Linked DNA regions of Homo sapiens: regions 2, 3, 4, 5 and 6 are each reported to be linked to region 1. Evidence: microRNA targets listed by miRTarBase, many of them from high-throughput screens and not tested one by one. Region 1 holds a microRNA gene; each other region holds the end of a gene's coding sequence.
What was found. The annotated mature microRNA hsa-miR-939-5p reads UGGGGAGCUGAGGCUCUGGGGGUG and lies in region 1 at 1,871-1,894, shown strand. An mRNA with a match to its seed (bases 2 to 7 or 8) in the 3' UTR can be bound and repressed. Matches are read on the target gene's strand: a 7mer-m8 pairs with bases 2 to 8, a 7mer-A1 pairs with bases 2 to 7 and ends in A, and an 8mer does both.

Region 1 (5,070 bases):
GGCCTGGCCTCCACACTTCTCAGGAGAGCTGACGTGAGTGCTAGCTCTGCCCCTTGGCTGCTCTGTGACTTTGGGAGGGCACACAGGCTTTCTCATCCTGGTTCCCTATTTAAGCCACCACACCACCAGGTCACTTGAGACCCTGCCTGGGATGCGGTGAGTGCTTCCTGGGTGCCTGAGGACTCAGGACTGTCCATGAAAGAGGGCAGCCCTGGCTCCCTCTGCCTGGTTTTCAGTCCCCAGCATGGCAGTCTGTGGGCTGCCCTTTGCAGCCTCCAGTGCCCTCCTGGCCTAGCTTTCCCATCCCCTGTGGCCAGCACCCCTAGCCCCAGCTGAGCGTGGGAAAATGGACAGGAGGAGCCCCAGAGGCTGAGTGGCAGCCCCTTCCAGGACCTCGCCAGGACACAGCTGCCCCTCACCCACCCCTGCTCCCACAGAGCTGAGGGCAACATCCCAGGGCTCTTGGCGGCCTGGGCCTGCCTGCCCCTGCCCTTGGCTAGCCCTGGATCCCCTGACCCCTGTGCCCCCACCCCAGGGCGAGCTGAGGATCAGTGTCCTGCCTGCCTACCTGTCCTATGATGCCCCATGGCCTGTCAGGAAGATCCCGCTGCGCTGCACGGCCCACTATGTGGCTTACCACGTGGAGTCTAAGGTCTGCCCCCACCCCCACCCCACCAGGGACCTTCTGGGCCTGGCCGGGCCACTGGTGTGTGACCCTCACTAACCCACAGGTGTATGCTGTGGCCACCAGCACCAACACGCCGTGTGCCCGCATCCCACGCATGACTGGCGAGGAGAAGGAGTTTGAGACCATCGAGAGAGGTGGTGACGCCCACACCATACTCCCATCCTCAGCCGCATCTTGGGGAAGCCCTACTCTGACTGTCACCCTTGGTCCCCACAGATGAGCGGTACATCCACCCCCAGCAGGAGGCCTTCTCCATCCAGCTCATCTCCCCGGTCAGCTGGGAGGCTATTCCCAATGCCAGGTGAGGCTGGGCCGGCGGGGGTGGGGTCTGCCCAAGGCCTCCAGGCAGCATCCTGAGGCCCCTGGCCCCCACAGGATCGAGCTGCAGGAGTGGGAGCATGTGACCTGCATGAAGACAGTGTCTCTGCGCAGTGAGGAGACCGTGTCGGGCCTCAAAGGCTACGTGGCCGCCGGGACCTGCCTCATGCAGGGGGAGGAGGTCACGTGCCGAGGGCGGGTAAGGGGCCAGTGAGCGGGGGCGGGAACTGGCAGCCCCTCTGCCATCCCCACAGCCATCCCACAGCCATACCCATGCCCTCCAGATCTTGATCATGGATGTGATTGAGGTGGTGCCCGAGCCTGGCCAGCCCTTGACCAAGAACAAGTTCAAAGTCCTTTACGAGAAGGAGCAGAAGGGGCCCGTGACCGCCCTGTGCCACTGCAATGGCCACCTGGTGTCGGCCATCGGCCAGAAGGTGTGCCAGTCCCACCCGGCGTGTGTCCCCCGGCTCACCCTCACCCGGCTCCCCGTCCGCGCCCGCTCACCCTCGCCCTCGCCCCCAGATTTTCCTGTGGAGCCTGCGGGCCAGCGAGCTGACGGGCATGGCCTTCATCGACACGCAGCTCTACATACACCAGATGATCAGCGTCAAGAACTTCATCCTGGCAGCCGACGTCATGAAGAGCATTTCGCTGCTGCGCTACCAGGAGGAAAGCAAGACGCTGAGCCTGGTGTCGCGGGTACACCTGTGGCGGCGGTGCTCGTGTCTGGGTGGGTACCCGCCCAAGGCACCTCTGACGCCCCCTTCCCGCCCCCAGGATGCCAAGCCCCTGGAGGTGTACAGCGTGGACTTCATGGTGGACAATGCCCAGCTGGGTTTTCTGGGTATGTGGGCAGGGCCCTGGGGAGCTGAGGCTCTGGGGGTGGCCGGGGCTGACCCTGGGCCTCTGCTCCCCAGTGTCTGACCGCGACCGCAACCTCATGGTGTACATGTACCTGCCCGAAGGTGAGTGCTTCCTCCACCCCCTCTGCCTGGGCCGGGGCTGGGCTAGCAGTGACCCCTAGGCCTTTCTGGTCTAGCCAAGGAGAGTTTCGGGGGCATGCGCCTGCTGCGTCGGGCAGACTTCCACGTGGGTGCCCACGTGAACACGTTCTGGAGGACCCCGTGCCGGGGGGCCACTGAAGGGCTCAGCAAAAAGTCGGTCGTGTGGGAGAATAAGCACATCACGTGGTTTGGTGAGTGTGGGGGAGCAGGTGTGTCTGGGTGGGGGGCCCTAGGGTTGGCCTGGCTCACACCAAAACCCTCACCCTACCCCTGCCAGCCACCCTGGACGGCGGCATCGGGCTGCTGCTGCCCATGCAGGAGAAGACCTACCGGCGGCTGCTGATGCTGCAGAACGCGCTGACCACCATGCTGCCACACCACGCCGGCCTCAACCCCCGCGCCTTCCGGTGAGCCCCGGCCCCGCCCCCGTGCAGCACCCCCTCCACCCCAGCCTGCCCTGACACCTGTGCCTGTACGCCCCAGGATGCTGCACGTGGACCGCCGCACCCTCCAGAATGCCGTGCGCAACGTGCTGGATGGGGAGCTGCTCAACCGCTACCTGTACCTGAGCACCATGGAGCGCAGCGAGCTAGCCAAGAAGATCGGCACCACACCAGACATAGTGAGTGCGCGCCCCGCCCCCCGCGCGCCCCGCCCCTCCGTGTGCATCCCCACCCACCCACCCACCCACCCTTCCATCCCCTGCAGATCCTGGACGACTTGCTGGAGACGGACCGCGTCACCGCCCACTTCTAGCCCCGTGGATGCCGTCACCACCAGCACACGGAACTACCTCCCACCCCCTTTTTGTACAAAACACAAGGAAAAACATTTTTTGCTTGAGAGGAGTGTGTGGTCATTACACGGCCTCCTGGCCCAGCTGCTGTCACAGCCCCCCAGTGCGAGTGCCCACGGGGCTCGGGGTGTCTACACCTCTAGCCCCGCCACCTCCGTCAGCCCAAGGTGAAAAGGGCCCCGCCGGCCCTGGGCGGCTGCACCCTAGGTCTCCAGGTACTGGTAGAGCTCCTCCGCTGGGGGCACGAGGCTCAGGTGGACCAGAGCACGAGCCAGGAGGGCGGTCAGCCGCATGGCCAAGGTCTCCAGCCTGCGTGGGTCAGGTCACAGGTCACAGGTGGGTGGGGAGCAGGCCCCCGCCACCCACCTGCCCCGCGGCCACTCACCTGAGCGCCACTTCAAACTTGAGCATCTCCCAGACGACCTTGGCGTGGCGCAGGAGGCTGGTGCCGTAGACACCCCGATACGTGGCGCCCGCCAGGCGGCTCCAGCCCCGGACAGCCCTGCACACACCCGCGTTAGCGCCGCGTCAGCCCCACACCAGCCCCACCACGGCCCGGGCGCCTCCTCGGGCCACCGACCTTTTAGCCATAAGGAAGTAGCGGTCCACGGGGGCGCCGAGGGCCACGTTGATAGCGCGCACGGTGTTGATGTTGCGCAGCACCAGCAGCATGGGCCGCGGCAGCTCCCTGAGCACCGCCATGACGGCCTCGAAGCGCTCGCGGGCCATGTCCACCATGTAGGCCGCCTCTTCGCGGCTCAGTAGGTGCGAGCCCCACAGCTGCCCCAGGCGCACGGGGCGCTGCATGAGCATCTCGGCGAACAGGAGGTAGTCTGGGGAGGGAGGGAGGGAGGGAGGGAGGGGGCTCTGAGTGGGTTCCGCGCCGCCCGACTCCCTTCTGTGGTGCCCCAGCCATCCCCGCACGCCCTCACCTTGCACCCCCAGTGCGGCTGCGTGCGCCCTCATGGCGGCGTCGTCCCGCAGGATGATGGCCCGCCACAGCTGGCAGAGGGCTGCGCGGTCCCTGGGTGTGGATGGGCCCGCAGCCATGAGCTCCCTGCGGCAGGAGAGGCTTGCCCTGCCCCACGCCCACCCACCCGCGCTCACTTCTCCTCCAGGAACTGGTAGAGCCCGTGGTCCAGCAGCACCAGCTCCGCTTTCCCGTCCGGGCCTTTCCGCACCAGAACTAGGGATACAGCCTCTTAGGTCGCGCTGCGCCCACCCTGAGACCCCCACCCCTGGGGTAAATTCCTACCGTTGCCAGGATGTGGGTCCGAGTGGATGAAGCCGGTGTAAAATATCTGCTCAGCAAAGGCCTTGATGAGCTTTTCTGCTATCTGGGGAGAGGAGAGGCATTGCAGTGGACACAGCACCAGCCCGCCCTGACCCGCCCCCGCCCCCCCGCACTCACGTCATGCACTGCCAGCCCCTGGCTCCTGATGGCCTCCACATCGTTGACCTTGCAGCCGGCGCAGAAGTCGGCAGTGAGCACGCGCTGGGGAGAGCAAGAGGCTGGGCTCAGCAGGCCCAGCGCTGTGCCCACCCCAAGGGCCTGGCCCAGCCCACCTTGCTGGACTTGTCCCAGTGCACGCGGGGCACCACGACGTAGGGGAAGTGCGCCAGCTCCCGCGCACAGCGCTCTGCGTTGCGGCCCTCATTCTCGAAGTCCAGCTCCTGGGCCAGGGTCCCCTTCAGGTCCTGGGGGCCAGATGGCGGTTGAAGACCAGCTCTGCCTACCAGCTGCTCCTACCAGCTCTGCCTACGTGTTTGCTCCTGCTGGCCGGGGAAGGGGTGGGGCTGTACCTGGAGGACCCAGCTGAAGCCAAAGCTGGGGTGCATGACCTCAACGAGCCGCAGCAGGAGCTCCAGGGTGTGGATGTCCCCATCAAAGCGGTCCCGCAGGTCGATGTACTGCACCTGCACTGGGCGAGGGTGTGGTGAGAACTTGGGGCCCCACTGTGCCCCGCCCCAGCCCACTGCTGAACAAGGCAGCCCCCATATACCTTCACAGCCACGCTGGTGCCATCGTGCAGCTTGGCTCTGTGCACCTGTGCCAGGCTGGCGGCAGCAATTGGCTGGTAGTCAAACTCCTGGAAGAGCTCGTGGGGGAGGGCCTGGAAGTCCTCAAGGAACAACTCATCCACCTGGAAGGACAGGTGCTCAGAGCAGCCTGGGGCCACTGCTGGAGGCCCCACCTCCCTCGGCCTGAGCGCACACTCACCTCCTGGAAGCCCCGCTTGAGGGCCCTGTCCTCTAGCACG
Region 2 (5,070 bases), not on the chromosome of region 1:
TAATTGTTATGGAAAAGACACCCTCAGTGTGCACAAGGAAGCCTCTACTGGACAGGAACTTTCCAAATTTAATCCATGTGGAAAAGTCTTTACTCTAACTCCAGGTCTTGCTGTACATCTTGAAGTTCTCAATGCAAGACAACCCTACAAATGTAAGGAATGTGGAAAAGGCTTTAAGTATTTTGCAAGCCTTGATAATCATATGGGAATCCACACTGATGAGAAACTCTGTGAATTTCAGGAATATGGGAGAGCTGTCACAGCTTCTTCACACCTAAAGCAGTGTGTAGCAGTTCATACAGGAAAGAAATCCAAAAAGACTAAGAAATGTGGGAAATCCTTCACTAATTTTTCTCAACTTTATGCACCTGTGAAAACTCATAAAGGAGAGAAGTCCTTTGAATGTAAAGAATGTGGAAGATCCTTTAGAAATTCCTCATGCCTTAATGATCACATTCAAATTCACACTGGAATAAAACCACACAAGTGTACTTACTGTGGGAAAGCCTTCACTAGATCAACTCAACTTACTGAACATGTAAGAACTCACACTGGAATAAAACCCTATGAATGTAAGGAATGTGGCCAAGCCTTTGCTCAGTACTCGGGCCTTTCTATACACATACGAAGTCACAGTGGAAAGAAACCCTATCAGTGTAAGGAATGTGGGAAAGCCTTCACTACATCCACAAGTCTTATTCAGCATACAAGAATTCACACAGGAGAGAAGCCTTATGAATGTGTTGAATGTGGGAAGACCTTCATTACTTCTTCCCGTCGTAGTAAACATTTGAAAACTCATAGTGGAGAAAAGCCCTTTGTATGCAAGATATGTGGGAAAGCATTTCTATATTCCTCACGCCTTAATGTTCACCTGCGAACTCATACCGGAGAGAAACCCTTCGTATGTAAAGAATGTGGGAAAGCATTTGCTGTTTCCTCACGCCTAAGTAGACATGAAAGAATTCACACTGGGGAGAAACCCTATGAATGCAAGGATATGAGTGTTACCATTTAGCCCATCGGTTGCCATCTTTAATTATTGGCAATGACACCAAAGATTATCAGATTTGTCCTAAATGCCTTTTGGAGGTTGTAATGACTCATGGATTGGCCTTAGATACCATCCTGAGGGTCTGAAATTAAACCTACAGGTTCTGAATACAACATCATGGTTGCCTGAGTCTGGGCATCTGTGAAGAAGGGTCATGGATGGTGAGGTCAGTACTGCAGGCTGCCTCACCTTGGTGATTAGATTCCTAAGATCATAGCATTAACAAGTTGTGTATGAGATAAATCATGCAGATTGACCCCAGCCCCTGTTGGTTAGTGGCTGCCAGTGTGGCACATTTATGTCAAAATTTACCAGAAGCCAAGATGATGTAGGACCCCAAAGGTGGGTTGTTAAGAGATGCTCCTCCAAGGGTCTCTTCTGATCCCACGGATCCTGCAGAGCGTGTCAGGAATGAAACCATCCATAACTGCCAGTGCCCTTTCACAGCTGATTATTTCTGTGTCCCCTTGTAAAATCTAAGAAGTGTGACAGCCTTGCCTGTTCTGCCTTGTATGTCTATTTTAGATGGCACAATGTAAGTGGCAATGTCTCTTCTAGTATAATCCAGTCTCTCTTCTCACTTCTGTCAAGGTGGCTGATATAGTCCATGAATCCCACTCATGATCTCTTTATCAGATGATCGTTCAGCCACACTTTGAGGATTCTCTTCAGTACAAGTTTTCTAATTTTTGCATTATGGATAGGCTGAGAATTTTCCAAATCTCCAAGTTCTGGTTCCTTTTTCCTTAACAATTTTTTCTGCAATTCAGGTCTCCTTTTGCATTTTTGCTGAGACCAGCTGGGTCATGGAGACCCTGACCCAGCAGCTCTAGAGGAATTAAGACAAAGACACAGAAATAGAGTGCAGAGTGGGAATCGGGGCTCACAGCCTTCAGAGCTGAGAGCCTTGAACAGAGTTTGACCCACATATTTATTGACAGTAAGCCTGTGATAAACATTATTTCTATAGATTATAGATTAGCTAAAAGTATTCCTTACAAGAAAGAAAGGGACAGGCTCTGGCTTGTTATCTGCAACAGGAACATGTCCTTAAGGCACAAATCACTCATGGTATTGTTTGTGGTTTAGGAATGCCTGAGCAGTTTTCCAGTTTTCCACCGTGGGTGGGCCAGGTGTTCCTTGCCCTCATTCGGGTAAACCAGCAACCTCCAGCATGGGTGTCATAGCCATCACGAGCATGTCACAGTGCCGCAGAGATTTTGTTTATGGGCAGTTTCTCATGGCCTGTTTATGTCCAAATTTGGGGGGCCTGTTCTGAGCACATTTTCCTGTAAGCACTCAGGAAGAATGAAGCTTCCTGTGTCCTTTAACACTTTAAGTACAGATCTTAGTGATACATAACCAGTTTTATCTCTCTCAAGCTCTACCTTCCGCAAAGTGCTAGAATACAGTTCTGCCAAGTTCTTCACTACTTCGTATCAAGGGTTGTATTTTCTTTATTTCCCAATAGCATGTTCCTCATTCCCCAATGACACCTCACCAGGATCACCCTTACCAACCTTACTTCCAGCTTGCACATCAGAATTTTTCCAGCCTCATTTGTCAGTTTCAAATCTGCTTCACATTTTTAGTTTTTTTGTTTGTTTGTTTTTAATCTGCCTTAATGAGCTCAGGCCACTATCACAAAATACCACAGACCAAATGGCTTACAAATTTGTTAATTTTAAATAAATGAGGTTAAAAACAAATTTATATTCTCACATTTCTCGAGGCTGGAAGTCTGAGATCAGAGTGCCAGCATGGTCAACTTCTGGCGAGAGCTCTCTTCCTGGTATGTAAATGCCCACTTCCTCATGTCTTCACAGGAAGGAAACCAACAAATAGGTCTCTCTCTCCTCTCTCCTTTCTCCTCTCTCCTCTCTCCTCTTTCTCTCTCTCTCCCCACCATCTCTCTCCTTCCCCTCCCTCCCCCTCCCTCCCCCTACCCATCTCTTGACATCATTTCACGATACTTCTAAAGAGCCTATTTTCAGGCCGGGCGCGGTGGCTCACACCTGTAATCCCAGCACTTTGGGAGGCCGAGGTGGGCGGATCACGAGGTCAGGAGATCGAGACTGTCCTAGTTAACACGGTGAAACCCTGTCTCTACTACAAATACAAAAAATTAGCCTGGCGTGGTGGCGGGTACCTGCAGTCCCAGCTACTCGGGAGGCTGAGGCAGGAGAATGGCATGAACCTGGGAGGCACAGGTTGCAGTGAGCCGAGATCGCAGCCACTGCATTCCAGCCTGGACAACAGAGCGAGACTCTGTCTCAAAAACAAAACTAAAAAACCCTATTTTCACATACAGTCACATTGGGATTTGGAGCTTCAACATATGAATTTTCAGGGTTATCATTCAGTCCAAAGTACTTAATATGATTCTTTTCCGTTTCCACATAGACAATCACATAATCTGTAAATAATGACTCTTACTTTTCCACTTTAGTCGTTAGGTTATACCTATATATATATTTTCTTGCTTTACTGGACTAATTTCAACCTCCAGCACACCACCAATGAATAGCAGTAATACCAGCATAATTGTCTGCAGTTCTGCTGAGATACGTGCTCTATTTTATTGGCTTGGCTGTAGGTTTTTATTTTATTTTTTGAAGAGGCTAATCTCTTACAGGAAAGGTTTCTTTTTATATCCAGTTTTTACATGATGAATGATTTCCCAGTATTTCATAATTCATGAGGCTGAATTCCTCTTGAATTTATTAAATGCTTCCTGTGCATCCTCTGTGATGATCATGTTTATTTACTGCTAGAACTCAAGTACCTAGAACTGTTCCTGGCCAATGATGGTATGTAATAAATACTTCAATGAAATGATGTGGTGATGCATGTCTATAGTTCTAGCTACTTGGGAGGATGGCCTGAACCCAGGGGTTCTAGACCAGCTTAGACAACATAGCAAGACCACATCTCAAAAAACAAAAAACAAAACGAATGAATGAATGCATGGAAGGACTCATCTCTAAAATAAATGTGGTCAGGTTGGGTGTGGTGGCTCATGCCTGTAATACCAGCACTTTGGGAGGCAGGGATGGGCAGATCACTTGAGGTCAGGAGTTCGAGACCAGCCTGGCCAACATGGTGAAGCCCCATCTCTACTAAAAATACAGAAATTAGCTGGGTGTGGTTGTGTGCACCTGGAATTCCAGCTACGCAGGAGGCTGAAGCAGGAGAATCGCTTGAACCTGGGAGGTGGAGGTTGCATTAAGTGTAGATTGTGCCACTGCACTCCAGCCTTGGTGACAGAGTGAGACTCCATCAGAAATAAAATAAAATAAATGTGTTTTTGTATTTATTACATTTCTAGTGTTACATCAACCTTGCATTCCTGGATAAGCCCAACTGAGACATAATGGATCATTTTAAAAGACTATTTGATTACCTTTACTAATATGTTATGGAGCTATGTTTGAATAACTGCAATTTTTTTTTCTTCTTGTCCCTGAATGATTTTTTTTTTTTTTTTGAGACAGAGTCTGGCTCTGTGTCCAGGCTGGAGTGCAGTGGCACGATCTAGGCTCACTGCAACCTCCACCTCCCCGGTTCAAGCGATTCTCCTGCCTCAGCCTCCAAGGAGCTGGGACTACAGGCATGCACCACCACGCCCAGCTAATTTTTGTATTTTTAGTAGAGATGGAGTTTCACCATTTTGGCCAGGATGGTTTTGATGTCTTGACCTCGTGATCCAACTGCCTTGGCCTCCCAAAGTGCTGGGATTACAGGTGTGTGCCACTGCACCCGGCCCTGAATGATATTTACATGTAAATTATGACTGTCATATACTGTATTGGGGAATGTTCCTACTTTTTCTAAATTCTTTATCCATCTATATGCTATAAGAATCTAGGCTGGGAATAGTGGCTCAGGCCTGTAATCCCAGCACTTTGGAAGGCTTAGGCAAAAAGATCAGTTGAGCCCAGGAGTTCAAGGCCACCTTGGACATCATAGTGAGACTACATCTCTACTGAAAAATACTACGTGCTGGGCATGGTGGC
Region 3 (5,070 bases), not on the chromosome of region 1:
TTCTCCATGTTGGCCAGGCTTGAACTCCGGACCTCAGGCGATCCGCCCGCCTCAGCCTCCCAAAGTACCGGGATTACAGGCGTGAGCCACTGCGCCTGGCCTAAATTTCATAACAGAACCATGACAGCAGAATCTACCTTTGCAATAAGAATGTTTCCCAGGAGTTAGAGACCAGCCCTGGGCATGATGGTAAAGACCCCAGCTAATTATACAAAAAATAATTAGCCGGGTAGGTGGAGTGCATCTGTGGACATTCGTGGTCCCAGCTACTAGGTAAGCTGAGGCGGGAGATCACAAGTCCAGGAGTTTGAGGCTGCACGTGACAGCGTAGGTGATGACAGAGCGAGACACTGTCTCTTAAAAAAAAAAAAAAAAAAGTTTCCCAGTTTGAATTTGTATTGCTGAAGCATTTTTTTGAAATGCTATATAGATGCCTGTCATGTCACAGTGGCCCAGTATCAACATTTTAAAAAGCTCACTTGGTAGCTGGGCTGGTTTCTATTCCTGAGAAATTCCAGAATGCCTCAGATAAAATTCCTTAGTATAATCCCCATTTTCCTTACCAAGGATGGTAGGCTTAGTCACTCCTTGGGAGGTGCCACAGGAAAATTCAGCAGATGTCAACAGAAAAAAAGCCTTTGCTATGAAAAGTATTCACTACCTTTCATATCTCTTGAATACTTGAAATGTTTAATTAGATGCCACCAATAGGGATCCAAGGAGTGTGGGACACGGTTGCGCTGCTTTTCTTTATAAACGTTTATTAAAATGGCTCAACGCTGCATTCAGCTTCACCTCAGCTCTTCTTGTCAGCCAGGAGCCCCGTGTCCTTGGAAACTGTAGCCAAGGTTACTTATTTCCATACTGTGCATTGTGTCAGCCCGCTTCACCCCACTGCTTGAATGGCCATTAATAAGCACTTTTCTTTTTTTGGTGGGATGTTTTGCCTTTAAAATTTTTATGGCTTAGTGTGTAATTTAATTTTTGTCTGGACATGCTTGAGATAGAAGAGGTACTGGATATATGAGGATATTTTCCATGCTTTATTTTTCCTGTGGCTACTAGTTAGCATTCCATAGGGGTTGTGAATTTTTAATTATTTGAATATTTTGTGTACATATACATATTTGAAGGGTTTTGGGGGGGTCTTATTTGTTTAAAGGTGTCTTCTGTTTGCCTATTTCAAGTGTACTTCAGCTTTGCAAAGATTATAGGGCTGTATGTTACAGAAATAGGAAATGCTGGCCCTGTACTGGGGACCACTACAAAAATTCCCTTTAGCCGGGCGTGGTGGCTCACGCCTGTAATCCCCAGCACTTTGGGAGGCCGAGCCGGGTGGATCACCCGAGGTCAGGAGTTCAAGACCAGCCTGGCCAACATGGCGAGACCCTGTCTCTACTAAAAATACAAAAATTAGCTGGGCATGGTGGCAGGTGCCTGTAATCCGAGCTACTCGGGAGGCTGAGGCAGGAGAATTGCTTGAACCAGAGAGGCGGAGGTTGCAGTGAGCCGAGATCGCGCCACTGCACTCCAGCCTGGGCAACAAGAGCGAAACTCTGTCTCAAAAATAAAAAATTCCCTTTAACACCTTCAAGGTCAAATGCCTGCCTTTGTGAACAGTTAATAAACTGACATTTTCAGACATTTGCCATTCAGAAGGGAGCATTGTAGCCTGCTGTAGACCATTCCAGCAAATGTCAGAATGCAGGGCAAGATGTGTGTCGACTATGTTTTTTATGTTTAAGTTACTTACTTATTTCTTCAGGTAAGTGTGTACCAAATAACAATACTGAAAAGCCCTCCCCTTGCCAGGCCGAGGAAATAAAGCTTAAGTGAAACAGCTCTTGGGGGAAAAATGCCACTTTACAAATACTTTTCTAACAAAATAGCATTATAATGAAGTTTTTACTTAATTCCATTATTTATATGTTGACGTGAATGTAAGTGGTTAAAAAGTATTCATGTGGGACATCTCATTACTTTGTAGCTGTGGCTTTATTAACCAGTGAATGCTGTGGCCCTTAGCGAAATGCGTTGTCTTCTGCGTGATGTGGAATTCGCGCCTGTATTTTAAAAGATGGTGTGGTTTCTCCCTTGTTTGTATTTTAATAAACAACTGCTCTAATTGATGTGTTTAGACATTATAAAGCTTTACCTTTAAAATATTTTCAGGGTCTGTTCTGAAATCACCCCTTGTTAAACTTCTCTAACCAAAATACAAGTGTAGAAGAATGTCAGGCTACTAAGCCTTTTCTTGGTCTTGTCTTTGTTGGGTTGATTTCACATAGATGCAAGTCACTAGGATGAACAGGGGCCCATGCGCTTAAGATTACAAAGGTGTTCAGCTTCCCACGTGCGAGGAACTCTTAGTTACAGCCCCGTAGTGCTGCTTGCCAGGAATTCTACAGGTAATTTTCATTAATTACCAAGAACATCTGTCACCAGGTGTCTTCTCGCCCTAGGACAATGGTTATTTGGGTGCTCTTATTCAGAAACTCCCAGACTCAAAGCTGAGCCTCCTACTAAAGCAGCCAGAGCCTCCCTGGATTTTTTTTTTTTTTTTTTTTTTTTGATCTTATAGCATTTGTTGTTTCCTCTGATTTCCCATAGAAACTATTAATAATTTTTTTCATTTTAGTTTTTCTAGAGAATAATGATGCATGTTTATAACAGTGGGCAGCCACGGGTATAAAGCAATAAAAGGTAGAATTTAGATGGGAAAAAACCATTGCCACAAACCAGGTAAAATGTGGAGTATATTTGTCTAAATATGTAGCTACTGGCCTATGTATGGCTTCCTGCCAAAACTGACCCAAAAAATCTAGAAAACTATTCCTCTGGTGAGCAAGCTACAACCTTCCTGATAAATGAAGCCAAAGAGCAGTGCCGCAGCGGGTTCCCATTGCACGGGCAGACGCCCAGGATGCCCTCCATGCAGAAGAAAGGCATGCCCTAGGACAGTGGTTACTTGGGGGCACGTGGAAAGTGCCCAGGAGTGTCCCAGGAGTGGGACAGGGGCGAGCTCATTCACCTTCTACCATGTATCTGATGATGATGAGCGGTGCTGCCCGTTTTATCAGGAGCAGTGAACTGGGTGACAGACAGTCCCAAAGTTAAACAAAGGCAGCCATTGTTTGTTTTTGTTACTTGCTTATCGCTCATACTGAGGTTTGGTTTAGGGCATTTTCGTATGTGGTAATAATAGTCAAGCAGAGGCACCTTTTATTGAAAACCAGTTTCTCTGATGGAGGACACGCTGCTTCGGGGCGCTCCACTAACCAAGAGGAAACCAAAACCAGCACCCCTGATCAGAGCGTGCACTATCAATCATCTCCCACCGGCCCAGCACCGGGGACGGTGTGTCTGCCTGTCCACCAGGATGTGACGCGCCGACAAGACTCTGCTGGGATGTGTATTTTAAGTAATGTTCCCAACTGGCACAGGAGCCACATTTCAGCAGTTAGTTAGTTAGTTACTGGAGAGCACCTTTTTCCCATCATCGACACACACACACCTTGAAATTATTAGTAAAAATTCTAATATGTTAAGCATATAGATTTATTAAAAATAATGCTAATATAATCCTGGGCACATGGATTCCAAGAGAGATTTTGCAGCAGATTTCATTATAGTTACTTAACAGCTAAATAATAAGGGTGTATTTAACTTACTTACAGAGTCACTAAATAATGGAGGGGAAAGGAAAGAGTAGGGCTAATCCAGTAGAGACTGAAGCTGGTTATCAACCTTCCCTAAGCATCTGTCTGGTCCGCAGCCTGGGGCAAAGCTTGTCTCTAAAGGGTTAATGAGGCCCCAAAGTGATTTTTGCACTGAGCTCCTCCTGCACCTACCAAGGTGCCAAAGGCATGAGATTCAGAAGAGAGCAGAACCAGTTTATTAAACTGTTCAAATTGGTAAAAATGATTAAAAGCTAAAGATTTCCATAAACACTATTCCAAAATGTTAATTTTAAAAATGTGACTAGCAATGTATGCATTCCCTTTATGTCCCCTCCCTCCCTATCTCTTAAAATAAATTTGAACACCCAGTGTAAAAAACACTTGAGGGAGAACCAGAAGTCAGCCATTTGAGAAGAGAGTGGAGAGGGAGCAGACGGCGGGGAGCAGATGCCGGCCCCGCTCGGGCTGCTGACGCAGGCTTCAGTGGCACTAAATCCCCCAGTAAGGCATCAGGTGTCGGGACTCCTTCTCATAGACGTCGGGAACTATGCCATAAGGTGTCTGTACCATTTTAACTGTCGACTTCCCAAAGAGCTGGCGCTCGTAGTCTATCAGTTGCCTCCAGAAGCCTACGTTGGGCCTGATGACAGGTCGCCGGGCTTTCACCCAGTTGTACGCCTCCAGCAGGCACACGTTGTGGAATTTCATCAGGTACGCGATACACAGCGTGGCTGAGCGGCTCACCCCTGCAGCACAGTGCACCAAGGTGGCCCCGTGCTTCCTGCTCACACTGTGGATCTTGTCAGCCACGGTGTCAAAGTACAGTCCAATGGGGGCATGCGGCATGTCAGCCAGAGGCACTTTAACATACTCAAATTGGGGCCAGTTGAAATTAGGGATCTCAATGGTAGCATTAACAATGCAGGTGATGCCACGAGCCTGGAGGAGGTGCCGATTGGAGGCCACACTGCCTCTGCCCAGGAATAGAGAGGAGGTGATTTGAGCAATGCCTCCTATGTCTCCCTCGGAAATCATCCGAGGGGCCATGAGAGTCCTTGGTAGCGTGCTGTGACCTCTGGAGCTCATGAAGACGCCAGCAGTCACACTTGCATCGTTGGCGGCAAGACCAGAGTGTTTTATTTTCCTCCACCAAGGAATCCAAAATTAGAGTCTCCTTCCTGCAAAATACAGGTATGTGTCAGTACTTTAAATGCTACTGATTCATCACAGCCTTCTGTCACATTTGTCAAATGGGAAGATTAGAGGGTTTTTTTTTAAATAATACAGTACAATCTTTCAAGGATACAGACAAATCATTTTCTATCAATTAACAGTTGGGAAAAGTCACCTAAGACACAAACATGTGAAATCAATGTAAAATTCAGCTCTC
Region 4 (5,070 bases), not on the chromosome of region 1:
CAAACTCCTTGCAGAGTGACCGAAGGAAGCACTGAGGGTCTGAGGAACGAGAGGGAACAGAGATTTACTGAGGAGAGTGTGACCTCCCGTCATAGCGCTATTGCTGTTACTTGGGTAAATTAAGTAGAACCTCTCAGTAAGGAAACTTGGTCAAAGGTATTCCAGCAGTCTTCCTGTGAAACCATGCTCACTGATCACCACCCTCAAAGTGCAGCCCAGCTTCCTCAGCCCAGCTGGTGCAGCCACCCAGCCCACAGCCCCACCACCTCCTCCCGCCACCCCATGGCATCTCAGGTCCTCTGTGGGTACAAAACTGAGTAGGAACCAGTCCCTCTCCTAAGACATACTGGGATAGTGCCACGGGACATGTGTGTGCACATCTGCAGGAAGGGCCGCAGGAGCGGTCAGGGCCAGCCCCGCCAGGTGGTCATGTGGAAGACCCTCACCAAGCCCACAGCCGTGGAGGCTGGAGGCGAGTGCTGCTCTGAGAGCCCATGACAAACCCACTCCCCCCGCCAGGCTGTCTTCTGCTGATGACGGATGATGGTTTTACATGAAGCATCTGCATTTGTATTTAATATATTCACTTTTCAGGAATAAAGAGGGATGTTCCCACATGCATTTTTTCCAGGGTATTTTACCGACTCCTGTAGTAGCCACCCATTATACAACCCAGCAGAACTGGAAGAAAAGGATGCCATCGGAGTGAGGAGGGCAGCCCAGAGGCGTCTGCAAGCAGAGCTGGGAATTCCTGGGGAGCAGGTACACACAGCATCCAGTCTCAGCTGTGTCCACGGGAGTCCAGGTTGGCAGCGGGCAGACGGTGAACAAAGTCCAGGCTGGATCTACACCATTGACCTCATGAAGCACCATGAGGATGAAGGATGGGGCTGTGGATGGGGCTGTGAATGAGCTGTGAATGGGGCTGTGAATGGGGCTGTGAATGTAGCTGTGGATGGGGCAGTGTGAGTCCCTATGTGTCCCAGGCAGGGTTGAGACTGTGCAGGAATCTGTCGACCACACACCGAAGAGGAAATTCAAGCCGGGCGTGGTGGCTCACGCCTGTAATCCCATCACTTTGGGAGGCCGAGGCGGGCGGATCACAAGGTCAAGAAATCAAGACCATCCTGGCCAACATGGTGAAACCCCGTCTCTATTAAAAGTACAAAAATTAGCTGGGCGTAGTGGCACACGCCTGTAATCCCAGCTACTTGGGAGTCAGAGGTTGCAGTGAGCCGGGATTGTGCCACTGCACTCCAGCCTGGCGACAGAGCGAGACTCCATCTCAAAAAAAAAAAAAAGAAAGAAATTCAAGTGTAGAAAGAATGTCCAGGATCCTGTGAGCATGTGTTACCTTCATCCACTCAAGAACACGTTTAAGAGAGGATGGATGTTCTCCTGACAACGCTAGCCGGTTTCTACGGGGTTTTCTGTTGAGGATGTGTGTGTGACACGGTTAGTTCTTTAAATGAAGACAGACAGGTTTACTGGAACCAAGAAACCAAAGCCGGTTTATCATTCAGACTTGAGTCCACAAAAATTTACTTAGCTAAAATCGAGGTTTTGGAAATTATCAATTACCAAAGAAAGTGTTCATTTTCTGAGGAAAACAAATGTGTTTATTTTCTCTATTTTTCTGTAAATTCTGTGTTTTACATTAGCGTTGTTAACACTGCACCAATTTCTGTCAATAGATTTCTCCAGAGGACATTGTGTTCATGACAATCTATCACCACAAGGCAAAATCAGACAGAATTTGGGGAGAGCATGAAATTTGTTACCTTCTGCTTGTGAGGAAAAACGTCACTCTGAACCCGGATCCCAGTGAAACGAAAAGCATCCTCTACCTGTCCCAGGAGGAGCTGTGGGAGCTGCTGGAGAGGGAGGCGAGGGGTGAAGTCAAAGTCACCCCCTGGCTAAGAACCATTGCCGAGAGGTTTCTGTACCGGTGGTGGCCTCACCTGGATGACGTGACCCCGTTTGTGGAGCTTCACAAAATACACAGAGTGTGAGAGGCAGGGAGGTCGAGTCAGCCATGTGTAATGCCCTCAGTGCAGGCAGACGCACCATTGAGGCAATGATACACCCTCTCCAAAAAACAGGGCAAAAGGGGCACTTGATTGCCCATCATGTATAAATCACTATTTCAACCTTTTCATCAACTTTGTCATATCTTCATTTTCCCTTTTCCTTATTTCCATATTTCTCATCTGCCTGGTTGCAGGGAGGAAATTTAACATTTCCTTTGTCCCAATTTCCATTTTATAAGCACTTGTTTGATTAACAGCAGCTGATCCTGAAAGTCTTGGGGAGATCTTGAGAGTCCTGAAGCAGGCGGACTAGCCTGGCTGGACCATGAGGCTGTCTCCCCACAGCTTTATCCAAGCCTCCAAGGTCAGGATGGGATCTCTGTATCATGTTTTTCTTTTTAAATCACTTATTTCAGAGTGCAACACAAGGCTGCATTTTTAAAAAAAAGACACATTCAATCTTGCATCCTAATACAAGCAGTACGGAAGATGCGTATGGTCTCAGCCAAGTGACTCGACGTTTATCCACTTCTGTTCATTTGATCGTTTCAGTAATATGCTTACAAATAAAGACATACTTGCTTTAAAACATACTGTTGTTGTTTAACACAAAGTAAACTATATGTTAAGTTTTGGTGTTTAATACGGAGAAAGAATTTCAAAAACCAGACCTGGTATTTTTTTTTTTTTTTTGAGATGGAGTCTCGCTGTCGACCAGGCTGGAGTGCAGTGGTGCGATCTTGGCTCACTGCAAGCTCCGCCTCCCGGGTTCAAGCCATTCTCCTGCCTCAGCCTCCCAAGTAGTTGGGACTACAGGCGCCCGCCACCACACCCAGCTAATTTTTTGTATTTTTAGTAGAGACGGGGTTTCACCGTGTTAGCCAGGATGGTCTCGATCTCCTGACCTCGTGATCCGCCTGCCTCGGCCTCCCAAAGTGCTGGGATTACAGGCATGAGCTGCCGCGCCCGGCCATACTGTTGTTGTTTAACACAAAGTAAACTATATGTTAAGTTTTGGTGTTTAATACGGAGAAAGAATTTCAAAAACCAGACCTGGTATTTTTTTTTTTTTTTTCACACGGAGTCTCTCTCTGTCACCCAGGCTGGAGTGCAGTGGCACGATCTCGGCTCACTGCAACCTCCGCCTCTGGGCTCAAGCAATTCTCCTGCCTTAGCCTCCCGAGCAGCTAGGATTACAGATGCCCACCACCACGCATGGCTAATTTTTGTATTTTTAGTAGAGATGGGGTTTCACCATGTTGGCCAGGCTGGTCTCGAACTCCTGACCTCCTGATCTGCCCACCTCGGCCTCCCAAAGTGCTGGAACTACAGGCTTGAGCCCCTGCGCCCAGCCCAGCCCTGGTAAATTTTTAAAATTGCCACATGTAATCCAGAAGTGTGATTAACTAAAGTCCTTTCCTCAGCTATAATGTTGATTGTGTGACTTGATAACTTATCCGTGGTGGCTCTTGGACCCCTGTGTGTCTTTGGAGCTCCAGGAGCACACGGACCCCTGGGCAGGTCCCTCCGACCCCACAGCTCTTCACCCCAACGCTCCCCAGCAGGTGCTTTTGAGGTGGCATTGGCGGTGTTTTTGTGTTTTACTGAACATGTAACTTCAGGGACGGGCCACAGAAATAGGAGAATGCCCATATTTAATTGCCTAATGCCTCCAGCAACATTTTACTCCCCCAAAAGTATTTTTGCTTTAAAACAAAATAGAAATGTCATGTTGTTTGCCTTTTTATTTGGCCAAATCCATAGCGACTATAACTAAACCAAAACATGAGCTAAGTAAATGAAAACTACTTTCTTCTGGAGGTTTATTTTGGATAAAATAGTTGAAGACAGACTACAATGAGACATTGTAAAATAAGACTAGAAAATAATTTAAGAGCGTATTTTAAGCACGGGATTCCGACACACTCATAAACGTGTTTGCTCCCAGCTCTTACAAAAGAAAATAAGGTTTTTCTCCATCAAAAACAACCTAGTTAAACCAGTAAATCTTCCCAGTTCTGAAAATCTGAAGCAACTGATACTCCATTAAATGTGGAAACACTGTCTACTCAAAATATTTGTAATATTATGCAGTGACAAAAATTTCCCACACCTATATAGGGTTAACCATAGTTTTCAGCAAAGCAACAAGTGCTTTACTTATTTTGTCTTTTTCAGTTTATACAGAGCTCCAATTTCATGAAACCATACTGTGCCAAACCAGGAAATAAACAGCAACACTCTAGCGAAGCCACGCCAACCAAACGGATACTATCTCCTGTCCTTTTTACCAGCTTTCCTCTTCCCAGACAGCAAGTGCTTGGGCTTCATATCAAACACGTGTCTATCCGCCTCCCCTTTCTTCCCCAACCGATTCATCTTCTTCTGAGCATTCTTCATCATAGTCTTGGCTTTCTTCACCATCTAAAAGGAGGAGAAAAAAATAAAGTATGTTCATTACTTAAAACCAATTTTCCATTCTGAATTTCAACTACTGGGTAACAATCTGTTTAATGGCTCAGGTCTGCTCAGCGAAGAGACCCTGTTACATCTCTTTTCTCTTAAGCCCAGCACAGTTATCCCTGTTACATCTCTTTTCTCTTAAGCCCAGCACAGTTACCCCTGTTACATCTCTTTTCTCTTAAGCCCAGCACAGTTACCCCTGTTACATCTCTTTTCTCTTAAGCCCAGCACAGTTATCCCTGTTACATCTCTTTTCTCTTAAGCCCAGCACAGTTATCTGCAGGAACTCAATGAGTATTTTTGTATAAAGACTGGATGAAAATCATACCCAGGACAAGCTTTATACCCAGGACTAGATACACTTTAGACCTAGAAGGTTAGCACACATCTGTTTTAACTCCCTCTTACACAAGCTAAGGACTCAGGCCCATGAACCTGTTTTCCTCAGGTCTGACTGACAAGTGGCAATGCCAATATTAACAGCCAGGTTTCAAGATGGCAATGGCACAGAGGAGTGAAGCTCAGGCTTCCATGAAGGAGACTGCAGTTTATACACAGACTCTCCTGCATCTCCATT
Region 5 (5,070 bases), not on the chromosome of region 1:
CCAGCAACGTTTTCAAATAATTTATTAGGAATTTAAAACTGAAAATAAAACCTGGAAAAAGAAGTTACAGATGTGGAGAGAAGAGACACCGGAGGATGGTAACTTGCTGGCTTCGAAACACCATGTAACATCTTAAAAAAAAAAAAAATCCCAAAGCAAATCAGAAAACGGAATTCCAGGGTCCTGAGCCCATGGTTGGGCCCAGTGGGGTGGAAGGGTCCGGGAATGAGGGAGAGGGAAGCTAAGTGTCTCAGGACTCAGCTCAAACGTGTAGAAAATTAAAAATAAAAACCAATAAAATGCAGCTTCTCTTTTATTAGGAAACATTAAAAAAAAAAAAAACCCAAAACACGAACAGCCGCGCATCTCAGTAACAAAGATTATTGCTTTGTGTTCTCAGGGCTGATAGGTTAAGCACCTCACACAGACAATTAACTCTCCAAAGGTGGGGTTTCCGGGTGGGGGCAATGCTGGGGAAGAGAGCTCAGGCCCTGGGCCTCATAACTGGGGGAGAGGGACACACAGAAGGGGGATGGCAGTGGGTGGGCCTTGGCCCTGCCACGCCAGCCAGGCCACTGTTCATGAAGGTCCAACGCTCTGAACCTCTCTTTTTCCTTAGAAGGGGGGTCTGGGGTGAGGGGCTGCCAAGGGACTCTGGCTGTGGGGTCATCCTGGTGGGAAACTTCAGTGAGAGAATGTGGGGGTTCCCTGAGACGCCCTTTGCTTTCCCCTGGGGTCTGCCCTCGCCAGAGCGTCCCCTGGTGCCCACTCATTGCGGGGGTCGAGGGGGAAGGGGGACAGACTGAGCAGAAACCATGAAGCCCCAACCTAGGTAGGGAGCAGGGGAGACCTTTGGAGAGTTAATTCCTGTCCAGCAGTGTCGCTGGGCAAGCCCTGCTCTTCCCACGCCCTTTGCCCCCACACTGGGTTTTTGGAGTGGGCAGGTCCAACCAAGGCCTTGACCCTGAGGGCCTGAGAGAGCGGGCCTGCCGTGGCCACAGCTGAGGCCTGCAAGCTTACAGTAACGGTGTCTGAGGGGACAGAAACAGGGGAGGGGGGAGCCCCTCACCCCCGAGGGGTCTTAGAGAGGGGTGGGCACATCACCTCACAGTATTTACATATGATACAGGACGGGATGGTTCCAGGGGCTCGGCCTGGCCTCCCCGCAGCCCTGCCCTCCTCTCCAGGGCTGGAGGGAGGCGGCCAGGGGCCCACACCCAGATAGACACTTTGTTCTCAGCTGGTGGGGGGCACCTGGCCCCTTGCCCCCTGCGGCCTGGGGCTTCACATTCACAAACCTAGAAATAGTTTAAAAAAGGTTTCTTTAAAAAAAAAAAAAAAAAAAAAAAGGGAAAGGGTAAAGGAGGGGAAATCTGAATAAAAAACAGGGGTTGGGCTGCGGCCTGTAGCAGGCTCCCTCCGCCTTCACTCCAGCTATGCACAAATCCAAAAGCCTTTTGGGGAGGGGGCGGTCCTAGGGGGGCGCGGCACGGAGGGAGGGATGGACCAGAGGGCTGGGGTGGGCAACCGGCTAATCCAAAATAAATAAAAGCAGGGCCGGGAGAGGGGCGGGTGGGGATGGGGGCAAGGGCGAAGAGGGGGACGTTAGTAGGGGAGCCAGACGCTGTTGGGGGCAGCAGGGCAGGGGCCGGGCCCGGGGAGTTGGGGGCAGGCAGTAGCGGGTCCGAGTCGCTGCAGGGGAGGGGGCGGCGGCTGCGGCTGAGGTCTCCCGCCCCCTCGCTGGCTCACTCGTGGTCCTCAGTCAGCTGCAGGCTGGGGCGCTGGGAACACAGCCAGGAGGTTATGGGGGCTCCCGGAGCACACGCAGCCCTCCCCAGTTCTCTCCCAGAAGAGCTTTGTTCGTAAACTACCTACTTTCTTCTTCTTATTTTTTTAGAGACAGAGTCCAGCTCTGTTGCCCAGGCTGGAGTGCAGTGACAGCGATCATAGTTCACTGCAGCCTCAACCTCCCTAGGCTCAAGTGATCCTCCTGCCTCAGCCTCCTGAGACTCTGGGATTACAGGTAGTATCTGGGACTACAGGTGAAAGCAAACACACTCTGCTCATTTTTGTTGTTGTAGCAGAGATGGGGATTCACTATATTGCCCAGGCTAGTCTCAAACTCTTGTCCTCAAGCCATCCTCCTGCCTTGGCCTCCCAAAGATCTGGGATTACGAATGTGAGCCACCACACCCAGCCAGACTTTGCACTTTCTGTTCCCTGGTTGGATGCCTCTTTCCCCAGATTTCGAATGGCTGGATTTATTTAAATGTCCCCTTCTCAGAGATACCTTCTCTAAACCCCACATCTAAAATAGCCCTGTCATGCACAGTCTGGAATTATCTCATATGTTCACTTGATTTTTGTCCTGTGAAATGAGAGAGGACTTTGTCTGTCTTGTTCATCCTCTTTCCTGGAATGGGGCTCATAAATGAATGGGTGAATGAACAGAATGTCATGGGCTCACAGTCTCCCACCATCTGGATAGACACTGTGATGGCCGTGTACACAGTCCCACAAGTCGAGGTATCCTGTTGTTTTTTGTTTGTTGAGGTGGAGTCTTGCTCTGTTGCCCAGGCTGGAGTGCAGTGGCCTGATCTCGGCTCACTGCAGCCTTCGCTTTCTGGGTTCAAGCGATTCTTGTCCCTCAGCCTCCCGAGTAGCTGAGATTACAAGTGCGCACCATCACGCCAGCCAAGTTTTGTATTTTTAGTAGAGATGGGGTTTTACCATGTTGTCCAGGCTGGTCTAGAACTCCTGACCTCAGGTGATCCGCCTGCCTTGGCCCCGCAAAGTGCTGGGATTATAGGCGTGAGCCACTGCGCCCGGCCAAGGTATCCTGTTTTGATAGCTGTGTACTATACCACTGTACACACACTAATTTGTTTAACCACTTTCCTTTTGATGGATATTTCAGTTATTTGCAGTTTTAAAAATAAATGCCTAGAAGTGGAATTGTTGGGTCCAAGGGCATGAATGTTTGAAACTGGGACAAACACTGCCAGACTGCCCCGGGAACCCCTGAGCCACTGTACTTACTTGCTTCTCCCATATCTTGATCAATGCTGGGCAGTGTTCAACTTAAAAAATCTTTGTGGCTGGGCCCGGTGGCTCATGCCTGAAATCCCAGCACTTTGGGAGGCCAAGGCAGAGGAAGATCGTTTGAGCCAGGAGTTCAAGACCAACCTGGGCCACATAATGAGACCCCATCTCTACAAAAAAATTTTTTAAAAACTTAGCCAGGCATGGTGGCATGCTCTTGTGGTCCCCGCTACTTGGGAGGCTGAGGTGGAGGATGGCTTGAGCCTAGGAGTTCCAGGCTGCAGCGAGCTGTGATTGCACACTGCACTCCAGCCTGGGTGGCAGTGAGACCACATCTCTATTAAAAATAATAATAATAGGGCTGGGCACGGTGGCTCACCCCTGTAATCCCAGCACTTTGGGAGGCCGAGGCAGATGGATCACTTGAGGCCAGGAGTTTGAGACCAGCCTGGCCAACATGGCAAAACTCGTCTCTGCTAAAAACAAAAAAAATACCAAAATTAGCTGGGTGCGGTAGCACATGCCTGTAATCCCAGCTACTCGGGAGGCTGAGACACGAGAATTGCTTGAACCCAGGGGACGAGTTTGCAGTGAGCCAAGATTGCGCCACTGCACTCCAGCCTGGGTGACAGAGCGAGACTCCATCTACAAAAATAAAATAAAATAATAGTAATAATAATAAACGATCTTAAAAAATCTTTGTGGCCTGCGCTGGTGGCTCACACCTGTAATCCCAGCACTTTGGGGGACCAGGGCAGGAGGATCCCTTGAGCCCAGGAGTTTGAGACCAGCCTGGGCAACACAGTGAAACCCTGTCTCTACAAAAAAAGTAAAAAAATTAGCCAGGCATGGTGGCAGGTGCTTGCAGTCCCAGCTACTCGGGAGGAGTCTGAGGTGGGAGGATCCCTTGAGCCCAGGAGGTGTGGGTGACAGAACGATATCTTGTCTCAAAAATAATAATAATAATAATCTTTGCCAACCTGATAGGTGGGATGTGAAGCCTTACTGTTGCTTTGATTTCTGTGTTTAAATGGAGTAGGGTGAGCAGCTTTTCATCTTTATTGACCACAGCTGGTATAAAGATCTGTCTCCCCTGGGACTGTGGTTCTTGAGGGCAGGGATGGGGTCTGTGTCCCAGATTCGATGGCCCAGGACAGGCTTCCCCAGTGCCACCCCACCACCTGCCCACCCCCACATCCTCACCTCCTGCCACCGTCCCCTGCTTCAGTGGTACCCATTGGTGAAGGCTGTGGCAATCAAAGGGCCCTGAAAAGGAAAGAATTTGACTCCTAGATTCCTGGGAAATAGAGGAAGATCAGGGGCTCCTTCTCTCTCTGCAGGACATCTGAAGTGAGGCGCTGACCTCTCTCTACCTGTCCGGATCGCCCCCCTACTGCAGGTCTGCCTACCCGGATCACCCCCCACTGCAGGTCTGCTCAAAGATTCTCCAACAGAGGGCCAGGGAATCTGCACAAACCGTACCCTGGATAAAACCAGGGCACCCCTGGAATCAAACCTCCATGTGAGCAGAGATGCCATGTGTCTCATTTGCACCTAGAGCCCACTATGCCTGGCATTCAGAGGCGATAACTAAGTGCCCACTGAATGAATGATAACCCCCACAACTCTTCCTTAGTGATCTTTCTCCATTCATCCTCCCTCACCCTCCTTTTGCCCCCAGAGACAAAGAAGTTCTCTCCCTTCCCCAACTTGGGGGTCTCTCAAGGTGTGGGGGGTGAGGTGGGGGCCGCTAGGCCTGGCCACTCACCCCAAGACTGTGGCCGAAGCCGGTGCTGGGGGCAGGGCTGGCGGCGCTGATGTAACTGCTGACCCCCGAGTCCTGGTTGGCCGCCCCGTAGAGCTCGGCCATGGGGCCGGGGCTGGTGGTCCCCAGGAAGCCCCCTGTGCGGCTGGGAGTCGAACCTGGAGGGGGAGCCATCGTCCAGGGGTGAGAGCCTGGCAACCCAGAAAGAAGACGGTGATAGCCCTGGTGCCCTCTGCCACCCCACGGCACCCCCTCAAGCCTGT
Region 6 (5,070 bases), not on the chromosome of region 1:
CTGCCTGTCAACACCCCCCACCCTGCAGGCTGGGGCCGGGCTGGCGGGGCCCTCCCGACTGACTTCCCCTTGCAGAACCCAGCGGGTGCCGCTTCTCCACCCGAGGCTTCCACCTCCAACGAGCCATGTTCCAGGCTGCAGGAGCCGCCCAGGCCACCCCCTCTCATGTAAGTGCCCGGCTGGGTGGGAGGGCCCCCCGGACAGGAGCCTGGCCTGGGGTGAAGGGGAGAGGCATCAGAGTTTGCCGGCCCCCTTTGTGCCCTGCGGCGCGCCCCTGGGCCTTGGGCTGATGGCTGCAGCCCTGATCCAGGGCCTCCCGGAGCTGCCCCTGCCCTGACCGCCCCTCTCCCTCAGGACGCCAAAGGCGGCGGCAGCAGCACGGTGCAGCGCTCCAAGGTAGGGGCCTGGGGCCGGGTGTGCGGGAGGAGGGGTGTGAGGGAGCGGGATGAGCACTGGGGCAGCACCTGGCTGAGCTTCCCGCACAGTCCTTCAGCCTGCGGGCCCAGGTGAAGGAGACCTGCGCCGCCTGCCAGAAGACCGTGTACCCCATGGAGCGGCTGGTGGCCGACAAGCTCATTTTCCACAACTCTTGCTTCTGCTGCAAGCACTGTCACACCAAGCTCAGGTGCGCCCCTGCCCTGCCCGCCCCCGCCTCGCCTGCCAACCCAGCCCCGACCTGACCTGACCTGACGCCGTTGTTTGGCTTCTGCAGCCTGGGCAGCTACGCCGCGCTGCACGGGGAGTTCTACTGCAAACCCCACTTCCAGCAGCTGTTTAAGAGCAAAGGCAACTACGACGAGGGGTTTGGCCGCAAGCAGCACAAGGAGCTCTGGGCCCACAAGGAGGTGGACCCCGGCACCAAGACGGCCTGAGGCCTCTGTAACCTTCCACCCCCTCTGCGGAAGGCCTGGAGCCGGCAGGGGGAAGGTGGGAAGGAGGTCGAGCTGGGCTTGCGTGGGGGCCAGGTGGGAAGGGGATGAGGCTTGCTCAGGCGTAGGGGACCAGGGCAGGGCTCTGCTCCAGGACTCCTTCCTTCTTCCTTCTCCCGCAGCCGGTGAGGGTTTGGAAACCAGGATTGGGGTCTGCCCACCACCCTGCTTCCTGCTTCGTTCAGCCTCCCTCCCCACCTCACCCCAGGACCCCCTGGGAGGCCCCCAAGCCCAGCTCCCCTATCTAGGTGCCTTTTCTCCAGCAAGGAGTCAGCATGCCCCCCTCAGGGTCCCAAGCTCCCTCACTGCCACCGGAGACTGTGTGGCCCCCACGTCTCCCCATCTACCTCTACCCTTAACCTGTTTCTGAGCCACGGAGACAGGGAGGAAGGAGCGCGACAGTGCCACCTGTTGGGCATCATAAATGCCCCTGCAGCCCATGGGGGAGGAGATGGGGAAGTGGAGCCACCCTGCCTCTGCAGGGCAAGGCAGGGCCTGCCCCAGTGGGGCTTGGGACCATCTCGAACCACCAGCGTGGAGAAGCAGAAGCAAAAGCACTCGCCAGGCTGCAGCCTCAGGCACTGGCAGGGGCTGGTGCGGCCCCACTCCCCTCCCCCGCTCCCATTTGTGCCCATCCTGTTGTGACCAACCCCGTTTTAAACATGTTTCAATAGATCCAGATTCTCTATTGTGTGGCCTGCTGGGGGATCTGTCACAGGAAGGGTGCAGACTCACCATGGGGCGGGCATGGGGGGACAGGGCCAGCCCCGACTACCTCGGCCCTGATGGGGGCAGGGAGCTAGAAGTGGGTGTCAGTTCCCTGACACACCATTGAGAAATGGGAGGGCTCCTCTTCACAGCGAGGGCTTCATGCTGTCACACCCACAGTGGTTTTGGAACTGAAACTCCACCTCACCCCTCAGTTCTGGGTTGGTTCAGACCCACCAACTTACCATATGCACCCCATTGTGAAGAGGCCTGAGAGCGGGAGGGCCAGGCTGCCAGTGGGTGATGGCGCCTGTCCTCGCTGCACTTCAGTGCCTGGGGTGCAAGCTGCCGCGTTCCCTGGCTGGTTCCAGCTGTCTAGCTCCCTCCCTTCTTCCCAGCCCTTTGACCTGGAAGTAAGTTAGCGAAGAATGGCGGTAACCAGCAGACCCAGCAAGTGCTGCCCAAGGTTTTAGTGACCCCTGGATTGTCCCCCCTCATCATTACCCCTCGCTGCTGTCATCATCCCCTTGCCTTTTCAAGCTCTGCGGAGGTGCAGTCACAGCTACTGTCTCAGGAAATCCAAAGAGAAACTACCTCTGCTTCTCTGAAAACCCAGGGACAATGAGGGATGAGTTCACAGCAGAGCAAACCAGGCAAGTTGGGAGGACCTGAGGGCGCCCCGGTGGGACACAGGCAGAAGTCTGGGTTGTCCTGCTCCAGATTCAACTTCCTGATGTCTCCAGACATGGGATCGATGAGAACAGAGACTCCTGGAGGGTTTGCTGCCACCACACCATACAACTGCCTGAGTTCCTAAGTGGCCTCCCCGTGGAACAGGGCAGGGAGCTGGGCCACAGGCTCCAGTGTCACATAAGTCACTATGCTGAGGCAGGCACTGCTCCTCGAGGGAGCAGAGCGAATACTCAGCAGAGATGGTGCCCCGGCCTGGATCCTCCCAAGTGTGAAGTGAGCGCCTCAGAGCCTCTCAGGGCAGGCCAACTTCCTGCACCAGAGGTCTCAGATGGCAAGGATCATCTTGGTTCGGTTAAGCAACAGTAGCAGATGACCACAAGGGGGTACTGGAGAGGTGGCTCTTGGAGACACCTGACCCCTGCCCTGCAAAGATGGGACTGAAGGAAGTCCTCTGGGCCAGGAAGACCCTACCAAATATCATGAAAGCTCCGGGAACTCAGCCACTGGTGACGTTCAGGTTGTGAGGGCCAGCAGTGCCACCCTGGTAAATCAGCCCTGTTGGGACCACCCCAGTGGAGCTCCTGGAGGGGCAACTGGAGGAAAGGGGCAGACACCTCTGGACTGACAATGGTATCAGCCAGATCACCCCAGGACCCCTCTACTTGGAGTCAAGTTCTCTTCTGCTTGAAAGGCCCAGGCTCGTTGCCAGGCACCATACCTGGCCCCTGCTAAGCAAAAACCTACCTCCACCCCCCACAACTGAAAGCACTGCCACAGGACCCCTCTGATATAAATGATCCCTTTTATTGTAAGTAATGCGCAACACTGGCCTGGCTTTGCACTGCAAGCCCTCGGTCAAGATATAGTCAAATAACTATGGCTGCAGGTTCCACAGTTCCACAATAACCATGGCTGCACGATCCACAATTCAGACACAGACATAGAGCTGGGGTGGGTGGAAGGGGCAGGAGGGTGGCAGAGTGCGGACTGTCCCCAGCCCTGGCCTCTCCATGCAGAGTTGGCCCAGGCAGACACACCCCATGGAATGATGAGAAAGTGACGGCACGGCCCCTTCCCACAGCAAGCCTGGGGCTGCCAGGAACTGCCCTTCAGAACCTTTGGGCCCAGGTCACCCTGAAGCCCCACAACTTTTTATCTGGATTAGTTATTAAAAAACAATAAATTAAGCAACAACTTGGTCCTGAGGATGCTGAGCCAGCATGTCCACAGTTTTTGGCACAAAAAAATTAGGGTCTGTTTTGCTTTTTTGGAGTGCAGGGTTTGTTGGCTTGTCTTCAAATTCATTTTCAAAACACATTCCCAGTGAGGTAAGACCCCAGGGGGTGGAGCTCTGTAAGACCCTGAACCTGGGACGCACAGTTGAGTCAGCCAGCACCGTGCTCTGTATCCTCTTGGGGAACAGGGACTGGGGATGGGGGTGCGGGCCAGGAAGAGTGTGCAGCCACCAAGATGGGGTCGTAGAGAGGCCGAGCTGCCACACAGCAGCTTTGGTCAAGATGAGGGCCAGGCCCCACCCTGGGCAAGGGCCGAGGTGGAAGCAGGAGCCTGTGTTGTCTTCAGAGGGCAGTGTGGGGTACAGGGGCTGATAGAGCCCCTGGGGGAACAGGGATGGACACAGGAGGGTCCAGGCCCAACTGGCGCATGCGACACACACTTCTGCAAAACCAGCTGCTTTCATTTTCTCTTCTCTCTCTTGAGGCGTCCGTCACCTGTAACAGTCTAGAATTGATATATATAAAAACCATCAAATATGATCTGAGATATAAATTAACAAGTACAAGGCCTCACATTACATGATGTGAAAAGGCTAAAAACAGCGATAGAAACTACATTCATAAAAGTGCATCGTCAACATACAACGAAGGCTTTGGCTTGTTCTGTGCCCATGGGGATGTAGGCATGGCTGGCAGGGCTGCCTGGCACTAATCCCCAGCTCCCTGGAGATGCCCATCCCTGGGCACTGGCTTTTTTTTTTTTTTTTTTCCTTTAATGACAACTCCCAAGGAAACTGGGTGTTGAGAGGGAGGAGCTCTAGCAATAGGCACATTTTGGAGGGGAGGGGCCGGAAGAAAGGACCAGCGCCCAGGCTGAGGTAAATATGGCCAACTCTAAGCTGCTTGGAGATGCTGTTTCCCCAACCCCTGCTGCCATTCCCCCTCCAGGGGAGGAGCTACAAGGGAAAGGGGCTGAGACCTCAAGGGGATGGGCGAGGCTGGCTGAGGAAGAACAGAGCTGGCGGTTTTGGACACAGCTGGTGGTAGCATATGGGCTTTCCCTTCTACCAGATGGAGTGGGCTCTGGCCTAGCAGGTCACGACTCAGGCAGCCTGAGACACCTCCTCGGGCTCTCTGGGATCAGGGCACTGGCCAGGCCAGATGCCCCGACCGTGTCGTCCATCTCCCCTTCTGCTCCAGTGGGGAACAAAGGCTGGGCCAGGAGCGCAAAGGCCACAACCTTCAGCTCTTTTCAATGCAGCCTAGGCCCAAGCCCAAAGCAGGGGTACTCAGAGCCCAGAGGGCACACACAGTCTCCAGTTTAGAAACTGGGTACAGCATAAGAGTGACTCCAACTTGTAAAACAGAGACAACTGCATTGACAAAACTGGATCCCCCCTCAGTGGCAGCAGTTCCACATCGCGGGCCCCTGCCTGGGAGAGGCAGGGTCATGGCCACAGGCAGGACAGGCTCCTCCTTCCCTGAATAAGGCAGCATGACATTTG

Region 2: the mRNA of ZNF561 is a reported target of hsa-miR-939-5p. Seed matches in the 3' UTR shown: 7mer-A1 at 2,953-2,959.
Region 3: miRTarBase lists DUSP14 as a target of hsa-miR-939-5p. Seed matches in the 3' UTR shown: 7mer-m8 at 4,119-4,125.
Region 4: miRTarBase lists GTPBP4 as a target of hsa-miR-939-5p. Seed matches in the 3' UTR shown: 7mer-A1 at 2,307-2,313 and 7mer-A1 at 1,758-1,764.
Region 5: miRTarBase lists MSI1 as a target of hsa-miR-939-5p. Seed matches in the 3' UTR shown: 7mer-m8 at 1,612-1,618, 7mer-A1 at 1,459-1,465 and 7mer-m8 at 1,056-1,062.
Region 6: the mRNA of LIMD2 is a reported target of hsa-miR-939-5p. Seed matches in the 3' UTR shown: 7mer-A1 at 1,120-1,126, 7mer-m8 at 1,164-1,170 and 7mer-A1 at 1,265-1,271.

What each region holds. Positions count from the first base shown.
Region 1 is chr8:144,391,017-144,396,086 of GRCh38, reverse strand. It overlaps MIR939 (microRNA 939), which reads left to right and starts at 1,857; the gene lies at 1,857-1,938. ADCK5 (aarF domain containing kinase 5) reads right to left here. Exons shown (of 15, transcript NM_174922.5): 5 at 5,031-5,070; 6 at 4,813-4,953; 7 at 4,613-4,726; 8 at 4,376-4,507; 9 at 4,221-4,304; 10 at 4,065-4,146; 11 at 3,917-3,995; 12 at 3,742-3,833; 13 at 3,390-3,642; 14 at 3,195-3,311; 15 at 2,845-3,118. The coding sequence ends at 3,013. It overlaps CPSF1 (cleavage and polyadenylation specific factor 1), which reads left to right. Exons shown (of 38, transcript NM_013291.3): 27 at 536-652; 28 at 732-822; 29 at 905-989; 30 at 1,064-1,205; 31 at 1,291-1,443; 32 at 1,532-1,708; 33 at 1,787-1,853; 34 at 1,927-1,974; 35 at 2,049-2,204; 36 at 2,291-2,420; 37 at 2,497-2,635; 38 at 2,722-2,856. The coding sequence ends at 2,769. RefSeq lists silencers at 179-392, 1,745-1,906.
Region 2 is chr19:9,606,148-9,611,217 of GRCh38, reverse strand. ZNF561 (zinc finger protein 561) reads left to right here. Exons shown (of 6, transcript NM_152289.3): 6 at 1-3,889. The coding sequence ends at 1,018. Among named protein-coding and RNA genes, the nearest start is that of ZNF561, 13 kb to the left of the region's middle.
Region 3 is chr17:37,511,969-37,517,038 of GRCh38, reverse strand. It overlaps DUSP14 (dual specificity phosphatase 14), which reads right to left. Exons shown (of 3, transcript NM_007026.4): 3 at 3,541-4,858. The coding sequence starts at 4,766. The coding sequence ends at 4,170. SYNRG (synergin gamma) reads left to right here. Exons shown (of 22, transcript NM_007247.6): 22 at 1-2,232. Among named protein-coding and RNA genes, the nearest start is that of DUSP14, 25 kb to the right of the region's middle. RefSeq lists an enhancer at 3,869-4,382 and a silencer at 4,141-4,531.
Region 4 is chr10:1,016,459-1,021,528 of GRCh38, reverse strand. It overlaps GTPBP4 (GTP binding protein 4), which reads right to left. Exons shown (of 17, transcript NM_012341.3): 17 at 1,597-4,454. The coding sequence ends at 4,302. It overlaps IDI2 (isopentenyl-diphosphate delta isomerase 2), which reads left to right. Exons shown (of 5, transcript NM_033261.3): 4 at 632-762; 5 at 1,695-2,619. The coding sequence ends at 2,012. Among named protein-coding and RNA genes, the nearest start is that of IDI2-AS1, 3.6 kb to the left of the region's middle.
Region 5 is chr12:120,341,325-120,346,394 of GRCh38, forward strand. It overlaps MSI1 (musashi RNA binding protein 1), which reads right to left. Exons shown (of 15, transcript NM_002442.4): 13 at 4,811-4,998; 14 at 4,246-4,308; 15 at 6-1,781. The coding sequence ends at 4,267. Among named protein-coding and RNA genes, the nearest start is that of PLA2G1B, 16 kb to the left of the region's middle.
Region 6 is chr17:63,694,354-63,699,423 of GRCh38, reverse strand. LIMD2 (LIM domain containing 2) reads left to right here. Exons shown (of 5, transcript NM_030576.4): 2 at 76-167; 3 at 355-396; 4 at 486-625; 5 at 713-3,536. The coding sequence starts at 126. The coding sequence ends at 872. It overlaps MAP3K3 (mitogen-activated protein kinase kinase kinase 3), which reads right to left. Exons shown (of 16, transcript NM_002401.5): 16 at 3,119-5,070. Among named protein-coding and RNA genes, the nearest start is that of LIMD2, 3.2 kb to the left of the region's middle. RefSeq lists silencers at 1-100, 191-420, 4,781-4,880 and enhancers at 1,381-1,690, 3,761-3,860, 3,901-3,960, 4,051-4,120, 4,182-5,069.